Regions from separate parts of the Homo sapiens genome. Here region 2 is linked to region 1. The links come from fine-mapping of genetic effects on gene expression. A gene starts in region 1. The other region holds a variant in brackets. All regions are shown on one strand. Distances are between the middles of the regions. Region 1 holds the start of LRRC43 (leucine rich repeat containing 43). Region 2 overlaps CLIP1 (CAP-Gly domain containing linker protein 1).

Region 1 (5,524 bases):
GAAACTTTGCTGGGAGAGTTTGAATAAATTTTTGGTGTGGCAGTTATATTGTGGTGGTTTGGGAAGTGAGGAAAAAGTGAGCATAGGCCAGGGGCGAGTGGCTCACACCTGTAATCCCAGCACTTTGGGAGGCCAAGGCAGGTGGATCACTTGAGGTCAGGAGTTCGAGACCAGCCTGACCAGCATGGAGAAACCCTGTCTCTACTAAAAATACAAAAACTAGCTGGGCATGGTGGCGGGAGCCTGCAATCCCAGCTACTCAGAAGGCTGAGGCAGGAGAATTGCTTGAACCCAGGAGGCGGAGGTTGCAGTGAGCCAAGATTGCGCCACTGCACTCCAGCCTGGGCAACAGAGCAAAACTCCGTCTCAAAAGAAAAGAAAAAAAGAAAAAGTGAGTATAGACCACTGTGTCAAGAAGCTTGGATGAGAAGGAAGAGAAAAGAGACAGTGTTGGCTGCAGGGGGACTTGGGATGAAGGGTGGAAGGGCTTCCTGGCTGGGCCTCTTCTGTGTATCTTGGGCTCTGTGGTCTGCCCAGACCTGACCTCATTCCTGAGCTCTTACTCCTAACCAATGGCTGATTTGACACAGTAGACGCCCATTGGCATCTGGACCTTAACTTGTTCCAAACAGGATGCTTGATTTCCCCTCTCAGTCTTCTCTTCCTTCACTGCACATTGTCCATCTGTTGCTCCATCAAAATTGCAGGAGCCATATCTGTGATTCATCTCCTTGATTTATTTATATCACTATGGACTCATAGATATTTATTTTATTCTTTGAGAGCCAGGCATGGTGGCTCACGCCTGTGATCTCAGCACTTTGGGAGGCTGAGGTGGGTGGATCACTTGAGGTCAGGAATTCGAGACCAGCCTGGGCAACATGGCGAAACCCCATCTGTACTAAAAATACAAAAAAATTAGCCAGGCATGGTGATGCATGCCTGTAGTCCCAGCCACTCAGGAGGCTGAGGTGGGAGGACCGCTTCAGTTCAGGAGGTCCAGGCTTCAGTGACCTGTGATCACGCTACTGCACAGTAGCCTGGATAACAAAGGGAGACCCTGCCTCAAAAAAAAAAAAGGATATTTTCTTCTTTGAAAGGACATATGGTTGGCTGGGCCCGGTGGCTCATGCATGTAATCCCAGCACTTTGAGAGGCTGAGGTGGGCGGATGACGAGGTCAGGAGATCGAGACCATCCTGACTAACACGGTGAAACCCCGTCTCTACTAAAAATACAAAAAATTAGCCGGGCTTGGTGGCGGGCGCCTGTAGTCCCAGCTACTCAGGAGGCTGAGGCAGGAGAATGGCGTGAACCTGGCAGGCGGAGCTTGCAGTGAGCCGAGATTGCACCACTGCACTCCAGCCTGGACGGCAGAGGGAGACTCCGTCTCAAAAAAAAAAAAAGGAAAAGAAAGGACATATGGTCATCTTTTTGCCTTAACTCCCAGTTTTGGATAAATTTTTTTTTTTTTTTGAGACAGTCTCACTCTGTTGCCCAGGCTGGAGTGCAGTGATGTGATCTCGGCTCACTGCAACCTCCGCCTCCTGGGTTCAAGCAATTCTCCTGCCTCAGCCTCCGAAGTAGCTGGGACTATAGGCATGTGTCACCACGCCTGGCTAATTTTTGTATTTTTAGTAGAGACGGGGTTTCACCATGTTGATCAGGCTGGTCTCGAACTCCTGACCTCAGGTGATCCACCCACCTCAGCCTCCCAAAGTGCTGGGTTTACAGGGGTGAGCCATCGCGCCCAGCCTAATTTTTCTAATAACAGTAAAGTTGTCCCGATATCGTATAGTCAAAAAGAATGAGAGATGTTAATGTGTTCCTCCAAAATTCATTTGTCAGAACCTGATGCCCAGTGTGATAGTATTAAAACGTGGGGCCCTTTGGGAAGTGATTAAGTTTGGGGGCTCCTCAGGAATGGGATCAATGTCCTTATAAAAGAAGCTTCATGGCTGGGCGTGGTGGCTCACGCCTGTAATCCCAACACTTTGGGAGGCTGAGGCCAGTGGATTGCCTGAGCCCAGGAGTTTGAGACCAACCTGGGCAACATGGTGAAACTCCATCTCTACTAAAATACAAAAAATTAGGCTGGGTGCGGTGGCTCACGTATGTAATCCCAGCACTTGGGGAGACCGAGGTGGGTGGATCACCTGAGGTCAGGAGTTCGAGACCAGCCTGGCCAACATGGTGAAACCCCGTCTCTACTAAAAATACACATTAGCGGGGCGTTGTGGCAGGCGGTTGTAATCCCAGCTACTCGGGAGGCTGAGGCAGGAGAATCGGTTGAATCTGGGAGGCGGAGGTTGCAGTGAGCCGAGATCGCGCCATTGCACTCCAGCCTGGACAACAAGAGTGAAACTCGGTCTCAAAAAAAAAAAAAAAAAAAAAAAAGCCGGAAGTGGTCATGCGCGCCTGTAATCCCAGCTACTCGGGAGGCTGAGGCAGGAGAATCGCTTGAACCCGGGACACGGAGATTGCGGTGAGCTGAGATCTCGCCACTGGACTCCAGCCTGGGCGACAGAGCGAGACTCTGTCTCAATAAAATAAAATAAATAAAAAATTTAAAAAATGAGGTCTGGGTGATTAAACAGTTATACAGGTGGACAGTGATAAAATCCCTGACTCCAGGGTTAGAGAGACCACCCTGGAACCCACTGGCTGGTTGGAGTCGAGATGTTTGACCTTGGGCCCTCTTCTCCTTTCTCCATCTGTCAGATGGGTATAGGATGACTTTCCGTGGGGAGTGCTTGACAGGAGCTAAGAAACAGGTCAGCTATGGCGCTTACTGCCTGCGGGAGCTGCCGCACTTAGAACCACCAGCTGTTATCCCATTTTTATAGATGAGGGCAGAAGAGAAAACGCAGGTGGTTGGGGCCAGGCTGTCTGATCCGGATGGGGGACTTTTCCCTCGGGGCAGGTGAGAGCGCCTGGAGAGGCCCCTGCCCCCGCGCACGCGTCCTAGCGGTTGCCGGGCAACGCGGCCCGGGCCATGGAGGCGTCGTACGAGTCCGAGTCCGAGTCCGAGTCTGAGGCCGGGCCTGGGACTCAGCGGCCCGGGACCGGGACCGTGAGCGCGGCCGTGCGCGAGCACTTGCGGAAGCTGTGTCTGCGCGAGTTCCCGTGCGGTGCCGGCAGCTGGGTGCGGGCGCCGGGGCCGGAACTCTGGGGGCCTGGACCGGCTGCGGGGAGGCACGGGCCCGGGCGAGCGGAGCGGGCTGGTCCCTGGGGCCTGGGATCTGCGCATTCTGGGGGCCGCCGACATGGGGGCGGGTGGGGCTTGAGGGTGACGGTGGGGCCCGAGTCGCGGGCACTGCGCGGGGAGGAGAGCGGGGCCCGTCCTGAGCACATCAGCTGACCTGGGCTGGGGCCTCTCCCTGACTTGAAGACGTCAACACCCCAGATTTCTAGTGGGCAGGCTCCTTTTGGGGTGAAAAGCTTTTGTTTTGGGCAAAGAGTTCCACAACTTTTCCCAGCCTCCGAGCATTTAATAAGAGCCTGAGGCAGTGTGAGAGGTGGCTCAGCCTGAAGCCTGCGACCTTGAGTCCAGGAGAAGGGGTTACCCCCCATCCTGCCTCCCTGTCTCCAGAGTCCTAGACCCTTCCCTCCCGTGGCTTCAACCACGAGGGGCGCCCAGGTGTGGCCCAGGAAGGCTTACTGCCCAGGCTGGAGCATAGTGACGCGATGTCGACTTACTGCAACCTCCGCCTCCCAAGTAGCAGGGATTACAGGCACCTGCCACCATGCCCGGCTAATTATTGTATTTTTAGTAGAGACAGGATTTCACCATGTTGCCCAGGCTGGTCTCAAACTCCTGACCTCAAGTGATCCACCTGCCTTTTTAAAAGGAATGGCACCTTTTAATTATTTTGTATCTCACCTCATCTGTAGTTATATCCATGGCTAATAATCCATCAAAATTATTGATTATTCACTGTCTAGATTTTTTTTTTTTTTTTTGAGACGGAGTCTCGCTCTGTCACCCAGCCTGGAGTGCAGTGGCGTGATCTCGGCTCACTGCAACCTCCGCCTCCCGGGTTCAAACGATTCTCCTGCCTTAGCCTCCCGAGTAGCTGAGACTACAGTTGCGTGCCACCACGCCCGGCTAATTTTTTGTATTTTTAGTCGAGACGGGGTTTCACCGTGTTAGCCAGGATGGCCTCGATCTCTTGACCTCATGATCCGCCTGCCTCAGCCTCCCAAAGTGCTGGGATTACAGGCATGAGCCACCGCACCTGGCCTACTCTCTAGATTTCTAAACTCTATCCCTAATCGTCCAGTTTTATGATCTGTTCTGTTTTGAGAGTTTGGTGTCCTTAAGGGGGCTGTGTCACACCTACAGAAAATCCCTCCTCTGCCACTGCAGAATAAGTCGCGCTTTCTTCCTCAAACTTGGCGAACTTGGAGGGAGCTTGTCCCCAGAGAGGAGGATGTGGTGAGCCCCGGAGAGGAGACGGTGGAGGCCCTGCTGGGCCTGGTCCGCAGCCGCCACTCCCCCTGGGCTCTGCTGAACAACTCGAATGCAGAAGACAGTTTCCTGAGAGAATTGGCCATCCGGAACCCGCTGACGATCACAGACACCTTCTTCTACTCCTACTTCCGGTCCCTGCGGGTAATAGACAAGAAGGTCAGTGCTGGGCACGTGGTAGGTGATGTTAGGGTGGCCGCTCCCCTAAGGGAGGTTGTGGGGAGGGCACCCTTCCCCACAGCGCGTCAGGGATCCTGCTTTCAGGGCTGAAACGAAGGCCAGCCTGCCCTCCATCTGCTTCATCTCCCTGGCTTGTGTGCCAGGCAGGGCCGGCTACTCGGTCAGCCTTGCGTTTCTTCTTCCTTTACCCCTGGAAGCCATCATGGCACAGCTTCCACCCCTGAGTTCTGCAGTGGACCCTCCTGGGTCCTAGTAAAGGTTTTTTGAAGGGTCTGTGTTAGTTTTACTTCGTTTAAACCGTGGGGGTCAGGGTAGGGGAAGGTTGGTGTAGTTCTATTTTAATTTGTTACCAAAAAGCATTCTTTGTTTACATCAGTAGCAGAGCCCAGTCTCGGCATGGTGGCTCTCTGGTGCTTGTAATCTCAGCACTTTGGGAGGCTGAGGCAGGAGGATCGTGTGAGTCTAGGTGTTAGAGGCCCAGCCTGGGCAACATAGTGGGATCCCACCTCTGTAACATCTTTAAATTTAGCCAGGTATGGTGGTGCACGCCTGTAGCCCCAGCTACTCAGAGGCTTAGGCAGGAGAATCACTTGAGGTGGGGAGGTAGAGGCTGCAGTGATCATGATCGCACCGCTGCACTCCAGCCTGGGTGACAGAATGAGACCCTGTCTCAATCAATTAAGCAAGCAAGCAAACAAGAGTGAGACTCTGTCTCAATAAATAAATAAAGCCAGCAAGCCAGCCCAAAAATTGCCTGGAAACTTGGTCTCAGCCTTCCCAACCCTTGGCTTTCTTTTTCCAGAGCCACTGGGAAGTGACACGGCACTAGGGGACAAATAGGGTGACTGACTGGTAGCAGTTTGCCAGGGACTTT
Region 2 (5,000 bases), 140 kb after region 1:
GATGTTGCTTCTGGGGTATGCAATAGAGTCTGCATACGTTTACTTTATGTACTTCTCAAATAATTTTTAAGTAATTAGCATTGTGTTCACATTTTCAATTTAAAATAAATTCCATATTTTTTTCTCAAAGGATAGAAACTTACATTTCTTTCCTAAATTCTTCCATTTTTTGATTCTCTACAGTCAGGAGTTCTTTTGATTTGTTCAGCTCTTCCACATTTTTCAAGTTGTTTTCTTTAAGTGTGTCCAACTTAAAGACCAAGAGAAAAAAACTTGATGAAATTATTTCATTTTCCAGTGACATGAATGAACAAATTATTCATGAAAATGTGTACTGAAAAGACAGATGAAATTAGTCACTCGCAAAAAAAAAAAGTCTCCTGGGTGAAGAGATTACAGATGACAAGTCTATTACAAACTGCAAACCTCCTCCTTACATTTAGTCTGATATATATATATCCTGTACACCTGGCCAAAAGGTCAAACTAGATTGCTACACAGAAGTAAAGTTTTCTTTTATCTTGTGTACAATTATCAGCACTTATCACTGAACTTGCTATTCAAATATGATTAAAAACAAGAAATAAAATGCAAAGCAATGACATCAGCAAGGATTATTCTTTGTAATGAAAAGAAACCCTTTTCTTTCCCCAAAGATTAGTGATTTAGGATACGATATTTTTCAATGTCAGTACCAGATTTACATAGTCCTCATTACAAAAATTATTTATTTGAATCAAAATTATTTGTAGACTGGAAAAAAATTTAGTTACCCATCTGAACTTGAACCTGAAGAGGAAAAAGCCATGTCGTGGGACTGAAGGGCACTTACACCCACCTGGCTCCATCATTGGCCCACGGGGATGCAGCCAGCTGAGGGCCTGGCTCTTGGTGGAAAGCCAGAGCTGTCACTGGGATGAGTGGGGATATGACTGATCATAGGCTGTGGCAGGTGGTTGGAGCTCTAGGTGCAGAGCCACCACCAAGGATGGTAGCTCATGTGGGCCTCCATTCCTCAAGGTGGCTCCTGGGGCCATGCTGGCTTTCTGGGCCTTGAGAAGTTGTCTCCTACAGCCAGAAAAGGGAGCTATCTCCTTTTGCCATGCCACATGCCACCAGTCAGGAGTCCTAGAAAATGTCTTGCTAGTTTTACAACTACCATCTTCCTTTTAACACCTAACATTCCAGATTAACAGAACAAGAAAAATAAAATATCACAATGGGTCCGAAAATATGGTTCATCCAACCCTGAATTCTGGCTATAACAAAGACACCAAGGGATCTGTTATAGAACGACACAGTTCCCCCTGGTTCCACTGCTGCAGGTTAGACACATTCCCTAAAATCCTCTCATTTACTTCAGCTTCTAATTTTGATTAACAGCTATGATTTTTTAATGCTTTTATACTTTTAGTTTAAGTCATCTTCTCTTAGGATTGTCAGTTCTATAAATGTACTTCCTTCTATGTGAAGTGTTGTTATTTATCATATCATTACCTCCAAATGTTCATCTCCTTTGAAAAGTTGATCCTTGACCTCCACAATGAGGAGGCCTGGTCTTTACAGTGGCTCCTCAGTTTGGCCACTGCCTCCCCCTTGCTTTCCTTCCTTAATGTCTTACCTGCCTATTACTTTTAAAAGTATCTGGGCTGGGCGTGGTGGCTCATGCCTGTAATCCCAGCCCTTTGGGAGGCCAAGGTGGGAGGATCACGAGGTCAGGAGTTCCAGAACAGCCTGGCCAACATGGCAAAACTCCGTCCCTACTTAAAATACAAAAATTAGCCAGGCGTGGTAGTGGGCACCTGTAATCCCAGCTACTCGGGAGGCTGAGGCAGGAGAATCACTTGAACCCAGGAGGTGGAGGTTGCAGTGAGCCGAGATCATGCCATTGCACAACAGCCTGGGCAACAAGAGCAAGACTCCATCTCAAAACAACAACAACAAAACAAAACAAAAAAAGCAACAACAACAAAAAAGCATCTGAAGTTCCACAGGACTTCACATAACCATTTTGGTGCCTCAGTCGGCTTAGGATTTAGATAACAGCTTTCCAAATGAAGAAAGGGTTGGTATGAGCTAGGAGGGTGGGAGCAGGGAAATCCAAAGAGGAGGAGAAATGCCACAGAAGGAGAAATGCTACTTGTGGACAGAATCAAAATATCTTGACGCCACATATTTGTCCCTGCTCCAAAAGTGACTCATTCAAGATGACACAAAAGGAAATCAGTACTGAATTGGGCCAAGAAAAGGCCTACATCAGACTCAGGGCTGAGGAAGAAAACTTAGTGGCTCAAAGTTGGGAAAGAGAAGAGAAAAAACAATGTGTGTGATGTAAGAT[C/G]AAGGATACAAAAGCTAGAGCAGGCCATCAGTACCTCCTCTCACTAGTGCCATCAGTAAACAGTCACCTTAGCCACACTATTAGGATTTTTTCCTCAATTTGTAAAGTTGATCCTAATAAGTAATGAAGTGATACACTTTATTTAAGATTATCGTGGCTCTGGCATGCATTTCAAACCTGTGTAAAGTCACACACTTCAAAAACATAAGCAATCCTGAGTCAGTGACCAAACATTCTACCAAGTTGGTAAGCTGTTCTTTGTATAAAAAGCTATTTAAATCTGATTACTTCATTCTGTAGTTTTGCATTTGTTTGCTTGGTGTCCTCCAAGGAGGCCAGAGTCTCAGTCTTCTCTTTGGTCATCTGTTCCATTATCTGCATGGCATCTTCCGCTGTTTGAGCAGCCTAAATACAAGGAAACACTGTGAGAAATGAGGACAGCCCTCGCCAACACCGTTAGGTGAGGATCGGGCTGTGCTGTTCAGGCAGCACTCAGTGTCTGTGTGGGTAAGGGAGGCACACAGAGAGGGTGAATCAGTCACAATCCAGTGCTGAAACAGACGGACCAGGACAGGAAAGGTCTTTACTCTGAAGTAGAATATGCAGACCCTTTCCTGCCATTTTTCAATGTCAATTGTTATGCAATTTGCATGTAAACATACATCTTCCAGTGAAAGTTCCAAATGACACTGGCAAGCATGCTCCCTTCATTCTGACTTATGTTTGAGAGACCGTTCGGAGGTAACAATGAATAACATCCTTATATAGCTGAATTTCTTGGAATCATATTTATTATTATAAGTTTAAAATACCATCCTTGCTATTTCAAATCTGGGGCTTTCAAAGTCACTCAAATTTAGGCTGAGAATTTTTCAAATAAATATAAAAATTATTTGGGCACTTCTAACATAAGGCTCAAGTGTTTAACGAGAAGCATTTAATGCAAGTTGTGGGTAATGAATAAAAACACGGCTGTGAATAAAAAGATGCATATGGAGACAAATTCTTAGCTGTTAACTATCAAAATTAATTATAAAAAGTTAGATATAGGCCGGGCGCAGTGGCTCACGCCTGTAATCCCAGCACTTTGGGAGGCCGAGGCAGGCGGATCACGAGGTCAAGATATTGAGACCATCCTGGCCAACATAGTGAAACCCCGTCTCTAATAAAAATACAAAAAACTAGCTGGCCGTGGTGGCGGGTGCCTGTAGCTACTTGGGAGGTGGGGCAGGAGAATGGTGTGAACCTGGGAGGCGGAGGTTGCAGTGAGCTGAGATTGCGCCACTGCACTCCAGCCTGGCGACACAGCGAGACTCCGTCTCAAAAAAAAAAAAAAAAGTTAGATGTAAAAATAACCATAAAAATAAATGAAAATATAGCTAGGCATGGTAGCATGTGCCTACAGTCCCAGCTACTCAGGGAGCTGAGACGGGAGGATTGCTTGAGCCCAGGAGGTGGAAAGTAGCCTGGGAAACACAGCAAGATTCCCACCTCTAAAAAAATAAATTAATTAACAGGCCAGGCGCAGTGGCTCATGCCTGTAATCCTAGCACTTTGGGAGGCCGAGGCAGGCAGATCACAAGGTCAGGAGTCAATATGGTGAAACCCAGTCCCTACTAAAAATACAAAGCTTAGCCGGGTGTGGCAGCACGCACCTGTAGTCCCAGCTACTCAAGAGGGTGAGGCAGGAGAATCGCTTGAACCCGGGAGGCAGAGGTTGCAGTGAGCCAAGGTCACACCACTGTACTCCAACCTGGGTGACAGAGCGAGACTCTTTTTTTTTTTTTTAGGCAGTCTCATTCTGTCACCAGGCTGGAGCGCAGTGGTGCAATCTCAGCTCACTGCAACCTCCGCCTCCCTGGTTCAAGTGATTCTCCTGCCTCAGCCTCCTGAGTAGCTGGAACTACAGGCCCACATCACCACACCGGGCTAATTTTTGTATTTTTAGTAGAGACGGGGTTTCACCATGTTGGCCAGGATGGTCTTGATCTTCTGATCTCGTGATCCGCCTGCAACAGCCTCCCAAAGTGCTGGGATTACAGGTGTAAGCCACCGCACCCGGTGAGACTCTGTCTTAAATAAATAAATAAATAAATAAATAAATAAATAAATAAAGTCCTTTAGGCACTTGTTTATAATTTATTGGTCTAATAAAGTTTATGAAAATTCTGCATTTTTCCCTATCCAATTATCAGCCATGAAGATTTCAATGGAATCTTCCAACTCCAAATGGACAGACACAATGAAATAGTTAAAAGCCAAACAGAAGACTATATTTCAATATGTGCCAATTTATTGCTTTTTTTTTTTTTCCCTTGAGACAGAGTTTTTCACTCTTGTTGCCCAGGCTGGAGTGCAATGGCGCAAGCTCGGCTCACTGCAACCTCCATCTCCTGGATTCAAGTGATTCTACTGCCTCAGCCTCCTGAGTAGCTGGGATTATAAGCGCACGCCACCACGCCTGGCGAATTTTTGTATTTTTAGTAGAGACAGGGTTTCACCATGTTGGTTAGGCTGGTCTCGAACTCCTGACCTCAGGTGATCCACCTGCCTCAGCCCCCGTGAGCCACCACACCTGGCTGTTCTTTTTTTTTAGATGGGGTCTCGCTCTGTCAACCAGGCTGGAGTGCAATGGCATGATCTCGGTTTCCTGCAACTTCTG

What was found. PIP is the estimated chance that this variant, and not a neighbour inherited with it, causes the effect.
Region 2: its variant is the best candidate, but not a certain one, in a credible set for the expression of LRRC43 in nasal epithelium (TOPMed, PIP 0.54).

What each region holds. Positions count from the first base shown.
Region 1 is chr12:122,180,151-122,185,674 of GRCh38, forward strand. LRRC43 (leucine rich repeat containing 43) reads left to right here and starts at 2,973. Exons shown (of 12, transcript NM_001098519.2): 1 at 2,973-3,144; 2 at 4,369-4,629. The coding sequence starts at 2,995. RefSeq lists a silencer at 3,001-3,100 and an enhancer at 4,694-4,763.
Region 2 is chr12:122,316,606-122,321,605 of GRCh38, forward strand. It overlaps CLIP1 (CAP-Gly domain containing linker protein 1), which reads right to left. Exons shown (of 26, transcript NM_001247997.2): 18 at 2,627-2,743; 19 at 144-250. Among named protein-coding and RNA genes, the nearest start is that of VPS33A, 53 kb to the left of the region's middle. The variant C/G (reference allele first, on the strand shown) is at 2,339.